Homo sapiens: one gene and its partners. The protein of the gene in region 3 interacts with the protein of the main gene of each other region in a pairwise test. Each region holds a gene or a part of one and is shown on either strand. Other genes may lie near its edges.

Evidence for each region.
Region 1: the proteins of DEF6 (region 3) and RAPGEF4 interact in a two-hybrid assay, tested with the Homo sapiens proteins (one large-scale study listed by BioGRID and IntAct).
Region 2: the proteins of DEF6 (region 3) and ARHGAP22 interact in a two-hybrid assay, tested with the Homo sapiens proteins (one large-scale study listed by BioGRID and IntAct).

The regions. Positions count from the first base shown.
Region 1 is NC_000002.12:172,738,784-172,742,435, reverse strand, and holds part of RAPGEF4 (rap guanine nucleotide exchange factor 4), read right to left. Parts: intron 1-3,652.
Region 2 is NC_000010.11:48,451,449-48,455,100, forward strand, and holds part of ARHGAP22 (rho GTPase-activating protein 22), read right to left. Parts: coding exon 3,554-3,652; intron 2,714-3,553; coding exon 2,640-2,713; intron 1,978-2,639; coding exon 1,856-1,977; intron 160-1,855; coding exon of another isoform or gene 1-159.
Region 3 is NC_000006.12:35,307,772-35,311,423, reverse strand, and holds part of DEF6 (differentially expressed in FDCP 6 homolog), read right to left. Parts: intron 1,755-3,652; coding exon 1,614-1,754; intron 966-1,613; coding exon 780-965; intron 1-779.

The DNA of each region.
Region 1 (3,652 bases), on a different chromosome or scaffold from region 3:
GAACATGTTTTAAAAAACTGCATGGAGGTACAATGAAAATTCAGACTGAAAAAAACAACAACAACCCAGTTTCTTCAAGAAATGTATTACAAGGAAGAAAAAGAGAGAAAGAGAGAACCCAGACCTATAGACATATCAACTAAATGCAACTTATTTGGCTCTTGATACAAACAAACTGCAAAAAAGAAAGTTATGAGGTAAATGGGGACATTTGAACACTGACTGAATAATTGATTATATTAGAGAACTAACGTCAAGTTGTTTAATGTGTGTGGTATTGTTTTCTTTATAAAAAGTCACTACCTTTTAGAGACATATACTAAAATATTTACAGATGAAATACATGGGATTTGCTTGAAAATAATCCTGGGGGGAGTGGGGAGCGCGTGAAGGTATAAACAAAACAAGGTTGGCTGTAAGTTGATGATGTTGGAGCCAGGGAAGGGGTGGCACAGATCATACTGGCTGGGCACAGTGGCTTAAGCCTATAGTCCCAGCACTTTGGGAGGCCAAGGTGGGAAGATCACTTCAGCCCAGCAGTTTGAGACCAGCCTGGGCAACATAGGGAGACTCCATCTCTACAAAAAATTTTTAAAATTAGCCAGGCATGGAGATACACATCTGTGGTCCCAGCTACTCAGGAAGCTGAGGCAGGAGGATCGTTTGAACCCAGGAGGTCAAGGATGCAGTGAGTTGTGATCAAACCACTGCCTTCCAGCCTGGGTGACAGAGTGACCCTGTCTAAAAACACACACACAAACAAAAAGAATTAAGAATCATACTGCTATTTCTTCTTTTTGTATATTTTGATTTTTTCCACAATAAAAAGATGTTAGTTTTTTTTTCAAAGGTGGGTGAGGATTTAAGGAGGAAGAATAGATTAGATTAGAGCTATGCAGTGTCATTTTTAAAAAAGTATTCACATTAGCCAAAAAACATAGAAGAAGCAACAGAGGCAGATGTGGATGGTGTCACCCACGCCCTTCCCCAGCAAAGGGCCCAGTGCAAGGGCCTTTTTGGGTTACAGAGGCCACCATCCCTGAGGAGAAGGATGCCTGTGGCCATCTTGCCCTGGGCCCATTAGCACCTTCTCTAGTCAGGGCACTGCACTGAAGCTGAAGATAAAATGATGAATAAAATATAGGGACTAAAGTCAAGTGATGTGAAAAGAGAAGTAAGCAGGCCATTACAATGGAATCGGACTTGTGCTATGTTATTACAGAGTGGGACCAAAGTGTGCTGTGAGAGCACAGGTAATGGTGATCTGACTGGAAAAGGTGGCAGCCACGCTGTCCTGGACGATTCCCAGAACTGCCTTCTCATTATCATCCAATTCCCAGGCTCTGTTGCTCTAGGAAGAGGATGTACTCCTGTACAGGCCAGAAGATGTAAGCATCCTGACCTCCTGGCAGCTTGGCTTCTCATTGTAAATGCAGAAAACGGACTTCTGAGAATAATTGGATTTCCCATATGGCTTACTTAGAGGAAGAATACATTAGCCAAAGGACGTGAGTGTCCACTTCTCTGATGTGACAGATCTTATTGTCAAATTAATAAACTGTCTTTCTGGCTTTTAGAGTCTCTGAGAGTCTGGTACCTGTGTATCTGTTGCTGAAAGATACATTAATTTTTGATGTGCTAACAAGTCAGTATTCTGAGATTGCAAGACCAGCCTGAGCCCTGGAGGATGTACCGGGGTAATGTCATCCCTTGGGACATGGCTAGTAGATACTAGCCTCCTCCAGGGACCCCTTTCTGCTCTGTGTGCTTCTTTGATCCTCTGCATTTCTCAAGGGTGGACCCATGTCTGATGCTTCTTTGATATCTGAGTTATCTTCTCTCACCATGTGTGCTACAAAGCATTTTGGTTCTTAACAAATTTGTTTCTTGATTTCTTTCACTCGAATTCAACCTAATCAAAATAGCTAAAATAACATCTATTTGGGGGCAAGTCAGATGGAAACTGTCCATGGAGTATTTTTAAACTGAAACACGAATACTTAAAAAAAATTCATCTGCTGCCTTTGAAAGATCACAACCTTTTGAATAACCATGTTAACTTCATCATCTGCTTTGGCTGTGACGGCCAGTGTTCCTCAAATAAGCCAATCAACTGAGAACCTTTCTCCAACCTATACTTCTAATTAAAGAACAAGAAACCAAACACTGTGAACTCCTTTCCAAATGAAAACGATTTCTTTCATCTCCAGTGGTTTCACTGTCAATCACTTAGATAGGTTCTTTCATCTATAACAAAAGATGGCAAACTTTTTCTGTAAAGGTCCACATAGTAAATATTTCAGGCTCTGTGGGCCCACAGTCTCCATTGCAGCTACTCAACTCTGCCACTGCAGCGGGAAAGCAGCTGTAGACAATATGTAACCAAATGAGCATGGCTATGTTCCAATAAAACTTTGTTTATAGACACTGAAATTTGAATTTCATCTAAATTTCATGGGTCACAAAATACTGATCTTCTTTTGATTTATTTCCAACCATTCAGGAATGTGAAAACCATTCTTAGCCCACGAGACATACGGGCAAGCTGTCAGATCTGGCCCACAGGCCATAGCTTGTCAATGCCTGTCCCATCATGATGAATGCCAGCAATGAGTCGCTATACTACATGAATGTGTATGGTCCCTGTCCCTTCATAATACTCCTTTACCAACCCTGAGAACTAGGACTTATAAGTGGATCTGAAGTTCACAGTTGGCAAATTTAAAATCTTACGGGAAAAATATTTTCATTAAAATTAAACAATGGGCCGGGTGTGGTGGCTCACACCTGTATTCCCAGCACTTTGGGAGGCCAAGGCGAGCGGATCAGCTGAGGTCAGGAGTCCAAGACCAGCCTGGCCAACATGGTGAAACCCTGTCTCTATAAAAATACAAAAATTAGGCAGGCATGGTGGTGTGTGCCTGTAATCCCAGCTACTCGGGAGGCTGAGACACGAGAATTACTTGAAACCAGGAGGGGGAGGTTGCAGTGAGTCAAGATCACACCGTTGCACTCCAGCCTGGGTGACAGAGTGAGACTCCATCTCAAAAAACAAAAACAAAAACAAAAAAACTTAAACAATGGTCAGCACACTTAAAAAAAAAAAAGAAAGGACATTTTACCTATCTTAAGTCCCAAATAGTGGGAACTATGTAATTTGTTCCTAGTTGCCATCCCCTCAGAAAAAAATGGTAAGATCCCTGAGATAGTGGTGAGCTTGTTTTACTCTAACAATACATCTGCTGAGACTTTTTTCAATGTTGGTTTATCCATCCAAATGTTCAATGTCCTGTCTTTCTGGTTTTAAGATTAGTATTTGTAGACCCTCATCTCCTCAGTCCCACCATAGTCCAAGATGGTGGATGATTGATACATAAAAAGCTATAGATTTTGTTTCTTTAATCTAATCTACATATCTACAACACTTGCAACACCCTTCCCCACTTGCAAATATTGTCCTGTCTATGATAGCTTTCTAGGCATTCCTAACAAACACTTTAAGGCTCTATTTTCCTTGTGTTTTGTTTCACTTCAAATTTCATTGTATACTTCTTTACTACTGCAGACTTTCTCTTTTAACTCTCTTTTTATTTCCAGTCCCAGGGTTTCTCTTTTTTTCACCATCCACAACAGTTGTCACTTGAATGAGGCA
Region 2 (3,652 bases), on a different chromosome or scaffold from region 3:
GTGAGCAGGTGGCAGGTTGGAACTGGAACCTGGGACCTGAGATGCCAGAACTCTCTCGGCTGCCCCACGTCACCCCTCTGTGCTGCTGACAACTGCCATGCCTGAATGTCCACACTCTGGGAGCATAGGGCTCTGGGACAGGGAATAGAGCCATCTTTCCTGTGTGGGGGCACACACATACAATTGCACACACAATGCACCCCGCCCACCCCCTAAAATACCCCCCACAATCACACGTACAATGCACCCCATCCACCCCCAAAGTCCCACACACACACACAACTGGACAATGCACCCACCCAGCCTCCCCAAATCCCCCAACACACAATCGCACATACAATGCCCACTCCCGAAAATCCCACACACATAAAATTACACACACAATGCACTCTACCCAGTTTCCCCAAAGCCCCTACACACACACAAGTGAACACACAAATCCCCTACCCAGCCTCCCCAAATCCCCCCATACAGAATCGCACAATGAACCCCACCCACTGCCCAAAATCCGCCACACACAATTGCACACACAATGCACCCTCCGCAGCCTCCCCAAATTCCCCCATACACAACTGCACACATAGTGCACCCTGCTCACCCCCCAGAATCCCACATACATATAATCTCGCACACACACAATCCCCCGTGTCTAGGCCAAGGCCCCTGAGATGCAGCCCCCAGTCCTGGGGACTCAGTTCCTACGGTGGTGGGGTGGGGGCCTGCAGCGGAGGTGGGCAGTGCAGGAAGGACCAGGGCATCTATCCAGCTGCCTCATTCCCTCCTGCCACCCTCACCACAAAGGCCCGACGCTAGGAGGTCCCCCGGTAGGAGGGAGGGCTGAGTGCCAGGGTGGACTCTCCCACTGAAGTTGACTAGGAATCCTGGAAGAAGTCAAGGAAGGAATTCTGAGGCCAAGAACCTAGGTGAAGCAGGAACTCCATGAAGCAGGCAGGGCAGGCCTCCTCCCTCAAGCATCTGTACCACCAGGCAGGTAGGAGCTTGTGTTTTCCTGGCCTCAAGGGGCCCTGGGGTGGGAGACCCAGCCAGGGCTGACCAAAGTGCGGACTTGAGCAAAAGCACTCCGCCACGTCCCTCAACATGGGATAAGGGCAAGAACAGCCTCAGCTGTGGGCTTCCTGTCTGAGCAGCACGTCTCTCATGCATACTCCACTGGGGACAGTGTTCCATGGGCCCTATGAGGTGGGCTGTCTTTTCTATGGCAGCCTACACCTGTGCCCTTTGCTAAGTCTGGCTGACTGGCCTCTGGTGAGTCCCCTCGCCTCTCTTGGCCTCAGTTTCCTCATCTGTAAAGTGGGGGCGATTACCACAGCACAGGCTGGTTGTAAAGCCTGAAATGAGATGATACAAACAAAGCACTTGGTAGAAGCTTACTGAAAGCGGCTGCTGTTGCTGCTATTTTTAATCACTTATTGTTATTTATCATAGAGAAATTCTCCAGGGTTTGCAAAGCTGACATCCAGGAACCTATGACAATTGCTTAATTGTAAAAGAAAAGCAAACATGTCTGTGTTCAAGGGCAAAAGTGCTGACCTCTCCCATCCCTCCAGCCTCTTCCATCCACAGAAACCCCTGGCTATTCTAATTGCACCCAGTGACCTGCTGCTGCCCATCGCAGGGCAAAGTTCCTTTTTTATCTTATAGCTGAACCTCATGGGGGTCGGGGGTGAGGTCTGCAGAAGTTCCTGCCAAGTCCCCAGAGATGGAGATGTGCCACCTGAGCCACCCCTCCTGCTGGCCTGGCCCTGGGCTGGGATGGTTCCAAGGACTTGCCGTGGACCAAGATGAGCCCAGACCCCGGCAGCACCCAGGGCCACCAGGTACACCTCCCACTTACCTTCCATGATGGTTACTGGGTCCTCTACCTGTGGCCGCAGAATGTTAGGTCCAAAAACGGTTGCCAGATTCTGGACACTCATCTTGTTGACATTTGAGTATGCCTGAACTTCATCCAGAAACCTGCAAAGTAAGGAAGCAGCAGTCATCAAAGAAGCAAGTTGTGATGCCCAGTCTCCTGTGTGCGGCCTGGACGCACCGCCACACCCCTGCTGAGCCCTGCTGCCTGTGGGCTTTTGCCCACTGGGTGTAGCCTGCCTCTGCCAGGCTCGATGAGGGAAGGCTTCCCCTGGGGCCCAAGAGGGCCATCAGAAGTAAAAGTCACTGGGACAAGGGCCCACCGCTATTTGTGTGAAAGGAGGACAAGACTCTGCAAATTGTAGTGGGCACAAATTCTGGGAAGTCCCAGACCCCAGTCAGCGCCGCCCCTGCATTCCCCTTCTCAGTGTCTAGGATGGGGATACATGAAGGGTTGGGGTCAAGGGGCAGATGCCGGGGGGACAGGATGGCAAGAGGCACCCAGGAGGGACAGAGGGTATGTCCCTTCTGGAATTATCTACCCAGGTCTGTTTAAAACCAGCTGCTCCCATGGGACTGTAAGCTTCGTGAACTCAGGGTCTGTGCTTTTCCACTCCCTGCTTCGTCCACGCTGGGTTGAGGCTGTGCAGGGTGGGGAATGACCCGGGCCCCCCTCTGACAAGGAAGAGTTGCGTGTCTCGCTGTGGGGTTGGGGGAGCGTGGAGCCAGTGCAGGAAAGTGTGGTTCCCTCCTGCCAAGCCGCTTACTTGCAGATGTATCTGAGCAGGTTGTAATTTGCCTGAGGAAGGTTGCTCACTTGTTTAGCCAACTCCAGAGTGCCCTTAGGAATGAAGAACAGAATTTCAAACACCGGCAATGAGGGCCCTGACTGTTCTCTGACTGCGAGGAGGGGTGGGCAAAGAGAAGGGAGGTGGGGGCTACGGCAGCCCAGCCCCAACAGACCAGAGGGCTCCACCACCTCCACCTCCCCTCAAGGAGTGGCCAGGGCCCAGCTGTGACCTCCTGGGAAGCTAACTTGCTTCCAAGGAGCTGGTGTGAGGGGTGAGCCTCTACAGGGCCCGTGGAGGAATGTCAGGGCCAGCACTCAGCTCACTTATCAAGACACAAATATTTGCCAGATAGTGAGCCCTCATCTCCCACATGGCCGCAGGGAAGGCAAACAGTCCTTCCCTGGCCCTGAGCCACCTGGGGCTGCAGACCAGCACCTGCACGGGTGGGGACGGGAGGGCTGGCTCATCTGTCCTGGGAGCCAGCTCAAATTCTTTTGGGAAGGAAGCAAGATATAAATAAAAGATGTCCTGGTTTCTGAGCCTGTGACGGGCCTGAGTGGCCTGAGTCGGGTGTGGGGAGTGTGAGCACCTACTGGTGTGACAGCCAGAGCTGGGCACACCGGACCCACCCCTCCCAGGGACCAAGGCCGCAGACAGGTATGGCTCCAGACAGCAGGATTCCCCAGCCCTCCCCGACCTGAGCAGGATGCCCTGGCCCCTCCCCCACCCAAGCAGGATGCTCCAGGCCCCCACCACACCCCCAACACAGCAGGCCTCCACAGGATCCATGTGCCATGAAAATTCATGAAAAGTCAGAGTCTGTGTCCTGAGTCTACAGGCTGCCACCCAGCCAGCCCATCTCCCAGGAGCTATCCCCAGGAGCCACTGACCTCCCCCTCGTCCTTGGTGAGCAGCTGGGCGCAGCTGAGGAAGTCCTCGTACCTGGCGAAGGGGACCACGGGCTCGGGGAGCTCCCGCAGGTACAGCTT
Region 3 (3,652 bases):
CCCACAAACAGAAGCCAGGACAAATGTGAGTGGAGCTTGACATGCTAGGGCTTCTTGTAAGTACAGAAGCCCCCTCTCCTGTAAACCCCACTCTAAAGACCTAAAGTCACCCTGGCATCTCCACAGCCACCAAGAGGACTAAAGGGTCACAAGGCCAAATGGGCAGGGGAGGGAAGTGAGGATAAGAGGGAGGGTACAGGTGGATGGGAAAATGCCTTCCCTGGCTTCACCCAGGAGTAAGGAGATAGGGACCAGATTCCCAGCCTTTTCTCCCAGGATGCCCTATCCCTGGGTCTCTTAGCTGAGTTTGTCCTGGCTTTCCAGAAGAAAGGCAGAAAGGGAAAATCTGGAACCAGAGTAACCTCCTGTCTCAGAAAGGTCTCCCCTTGCCTTGTAAAGCATCCTTCCTGTCCTGGAAGAAGTGGCAAAAGGTAAAGGAAAAAAAAGCACCCTTCCTAGATTGCCAGTAATGCTCAGTAATGTATCTGGCATTTAGACCTCTGTGTAAACAGAATTTGCAGATCATTTTCCTACAGTGAGGACCAGCAGAACCCTCATGAAAGTGTAATTTCAGTTTTCCTGGAAGAAGGCAAAATTACTCTGACACAGGCAGTTCTAGGCATCTGGAGACAGCTGGGTGAGGACAGATACCAGCATGGGAAGATGGTAAAGAAAGAAAGGGGATATGGGAAGGCACCAAAGGTGGTTTGGTCTCATTCATGGTTTTGCTTAGGTCTGGTCCCAAGTGATTCAGTCCCTGGGGCTGCCATCACCCTCACCTCATCAGGAACCATGATCAGAGGGTACTTGTCCTCAGACAGGAAGTTGAAGAGGCACCAGAGGCGGAAGGCATCCTGATTGGAGAGCATACTGTTCCCGTTGCTATCTGCCCGATAGTTCTTCTTGGCCGTCAGCGTCCAGCACAGCTCATCAAAGTGCTCTTTAACAAAAGCCCCCTCCTCCACCTGCCACCAGGGCTGCAAATCAGCTGACTGCATATCTCAGCTCTACCACGACACTAGGCTCCAGCTGGGTTTCTTGGGTTCATCTATGCCCCTGCTCCCCACCTGGCCAAGTCCAGGGCCCTAACTCAAGGGATCCCTGAGCTGATTACCAGGTAACTAGCTGGTTCCAACCACTCCACCCTCCACAACACACCCACACCCACCCAGGCCCCCTGACAACAGATTAACTCTAGTCTTTCAGCCCAGAGGACAAAGAAGGAGAAACCCAGCAGGAAGCTAAGAGCCAAGAACCTGGAAACACAGTGACAGATTGGAGGAGTTGGAGGGGGAGTTCAGGGGGACAGTCTGGGAAGGGTGGAGAACCCTGGAAGCTGGAGGAGGGCCGGGCAGGGATTCGGTGGAAGGTTATGGGTAGGGTGGGGCCCACCTCATTAGAGATGAGGGACATTGAAGGTGAATTGAGGGGGACAGGAAGGGGGCAGGTGGCTGGGATGTGAGGGACGTGATGGGACAGCAGTCACGGACAGAGCAGGCAGAAGTAGGAGTTTATGGCAGGGGCGAAGAGTTGGAGTGGCAAGGTATTAGGCTGCTGGCCAGGCTGGAAAAGTGGGGAGAGGTTACAGATGCTCCCTACAAGCTGGGCCCCACCTTGTCCAGGATGTACTTGTTGAGGTAGGGCATGTATCCCTGGCTGGACACAGGGCCGTCATCATCATCTCGGAAGTGTTCCTCCAGGGCCACGGGGTCATGGGGGATGTGCAGGACCGTGTACAGGTTGTGGGACAGCACCTGGGATAGAGTAGAGTGGCAGTGTGTCTTTCTGCACCCCAACCAAAACTGGGCCAGAGGACTGCTCCCCACCTCTCTGCTTGTCCTCACCCCATCCTGGCTGAGTTCTCTACACACACTGTTCAGTTCAGTAATAACTAAAACTTATATACTATGTGCCAAGCACTGAGCTAAAGTACTTTACATATCATTTGCTTAACCACCATAACAACTACTCATATACCCATTTTACAAATGAAAACTCCTGCAGCCCTGAGATATTTCTCACCCAAGGTCACAGCTGGCAGAACTGGAATTCAAACCCATGCAGTTATACTCTTAGCCACTTCATTAGGTATTGGTGTCCTCTTTCTACAGACAGGGAGACTGAGGCTCAAGGGATTCAGTAACTTGCCAAAAGACCCACACTGAACAAGAGCTTGGAGTTCAAATCCATCTCCATCAGATTCCAAAGCCCAAGTGCTTCCCACAATGCTAGACAGTTTGCAGGGTTTGCAGGGACTTAGTCTGCCACCCCAGGGCAGAAGCTGCCAATTTATCATGGTTTCCATCAAAGACTCAGTGTCCTGGCTGCAGTGTGCCTATCACCTAAGCGTGTCTGCTCTGGGAGAGGAGAGGGCTCAAAGAAGGGTCATGAAAAATGGTCCATGACATGGAGAGGGCAAGGCTTAGAAGGGATAGTGGTCATAATGGTGTGCAGGGGAAATGTGGGTTTGTTGAACAAATCCATGATATTAGAATAAAGGGGTTGAAATCTGAAATCTGGTGAAAATAAAATCTCCTTGGGGTAATTCTATTATAGCATTTGTCACAAGCAGTGTAAATGATTAAAAAGTCACTAGTTACTATTGCACACTTACCATATGCCGGTCACTGTAGGAGGTGGTTTATTTAATTAAAACTGTTTTTTATTTTATTTTATTTTATTTTATTATTTTATTTATTTTATTTTATTTTATTTTATTTTATTTTATTTTATTTTATTTTATTTTATTTTGAGACGGAGTCTTACTCTGTCACCCAGGTTGGAGTGCAGTGGCATGATCTCAGCTCACTACAACCTCCACCTCCTGGGTTCAAGTGATTCCCCTGCCTCAGCATCCTAAGTAGCTGGGATTACAGGCACCCACCATCACATTCAGCTAATTTTTGTATTTTTAGTAGAGACAGGGTTTCACCATGTTGGCCAGGCTGGCCTCGAACTCCTGTCCTCAGGCGATCCGCCCACCTCGGCCTCCCAAAGTGCTGGGATTACAGGCCTGAGGCACCATGCCCGGCCAAAACTTTTTTTTTTTTTTTCGGTAGAGACAGAGGTCTGCATATGTTGCCCAGGCTGGCCTTGAACTGCTGGCCTCAAGTGATCCTCACATCTGGACCTTCCAAAGTGCTGGGATTTCAGGCATGAGCCACTACACCCAGTCAAAGCGCTTTTTATACCCCATTTCTAGTCTTCACAATCACCTATATACGCAAATATTATTAAGCCTGTTTTTCAGGTGAAGACACAGAGGTTTGGAAATTTTAAGAGTAAATGGCAGAGCTGAGGTTGAAACTAAATGTGCCTGGTTCACAGGTTGCCTTCCTACTAGAATACTGATGTCAAGTCTCCCTCCTCCGTTGGATTGTGAACTCTGGAGACAAGGTCTCTGTTCATCTTTATGTCCCTCAGCATCTATGTCCTCTTTTGTACATCAAGTGCAATCAATACATGCTATATTGAAGGGCTTCTTCCACCACCAGCAGTTCACCTTGGAATCAGTTCCTAGGAGGCAGGAGCTAGCACTGTCTCGGAGATGGTGTGTGTGCCAAGCCTTCATTTTATTCTCTTTTCAGAGAGGAGGGGGAGAAAGTATTGAGACTTTGCCTCAGTGTCCTCCTGGGGCTCAGTTTTCCTTGGC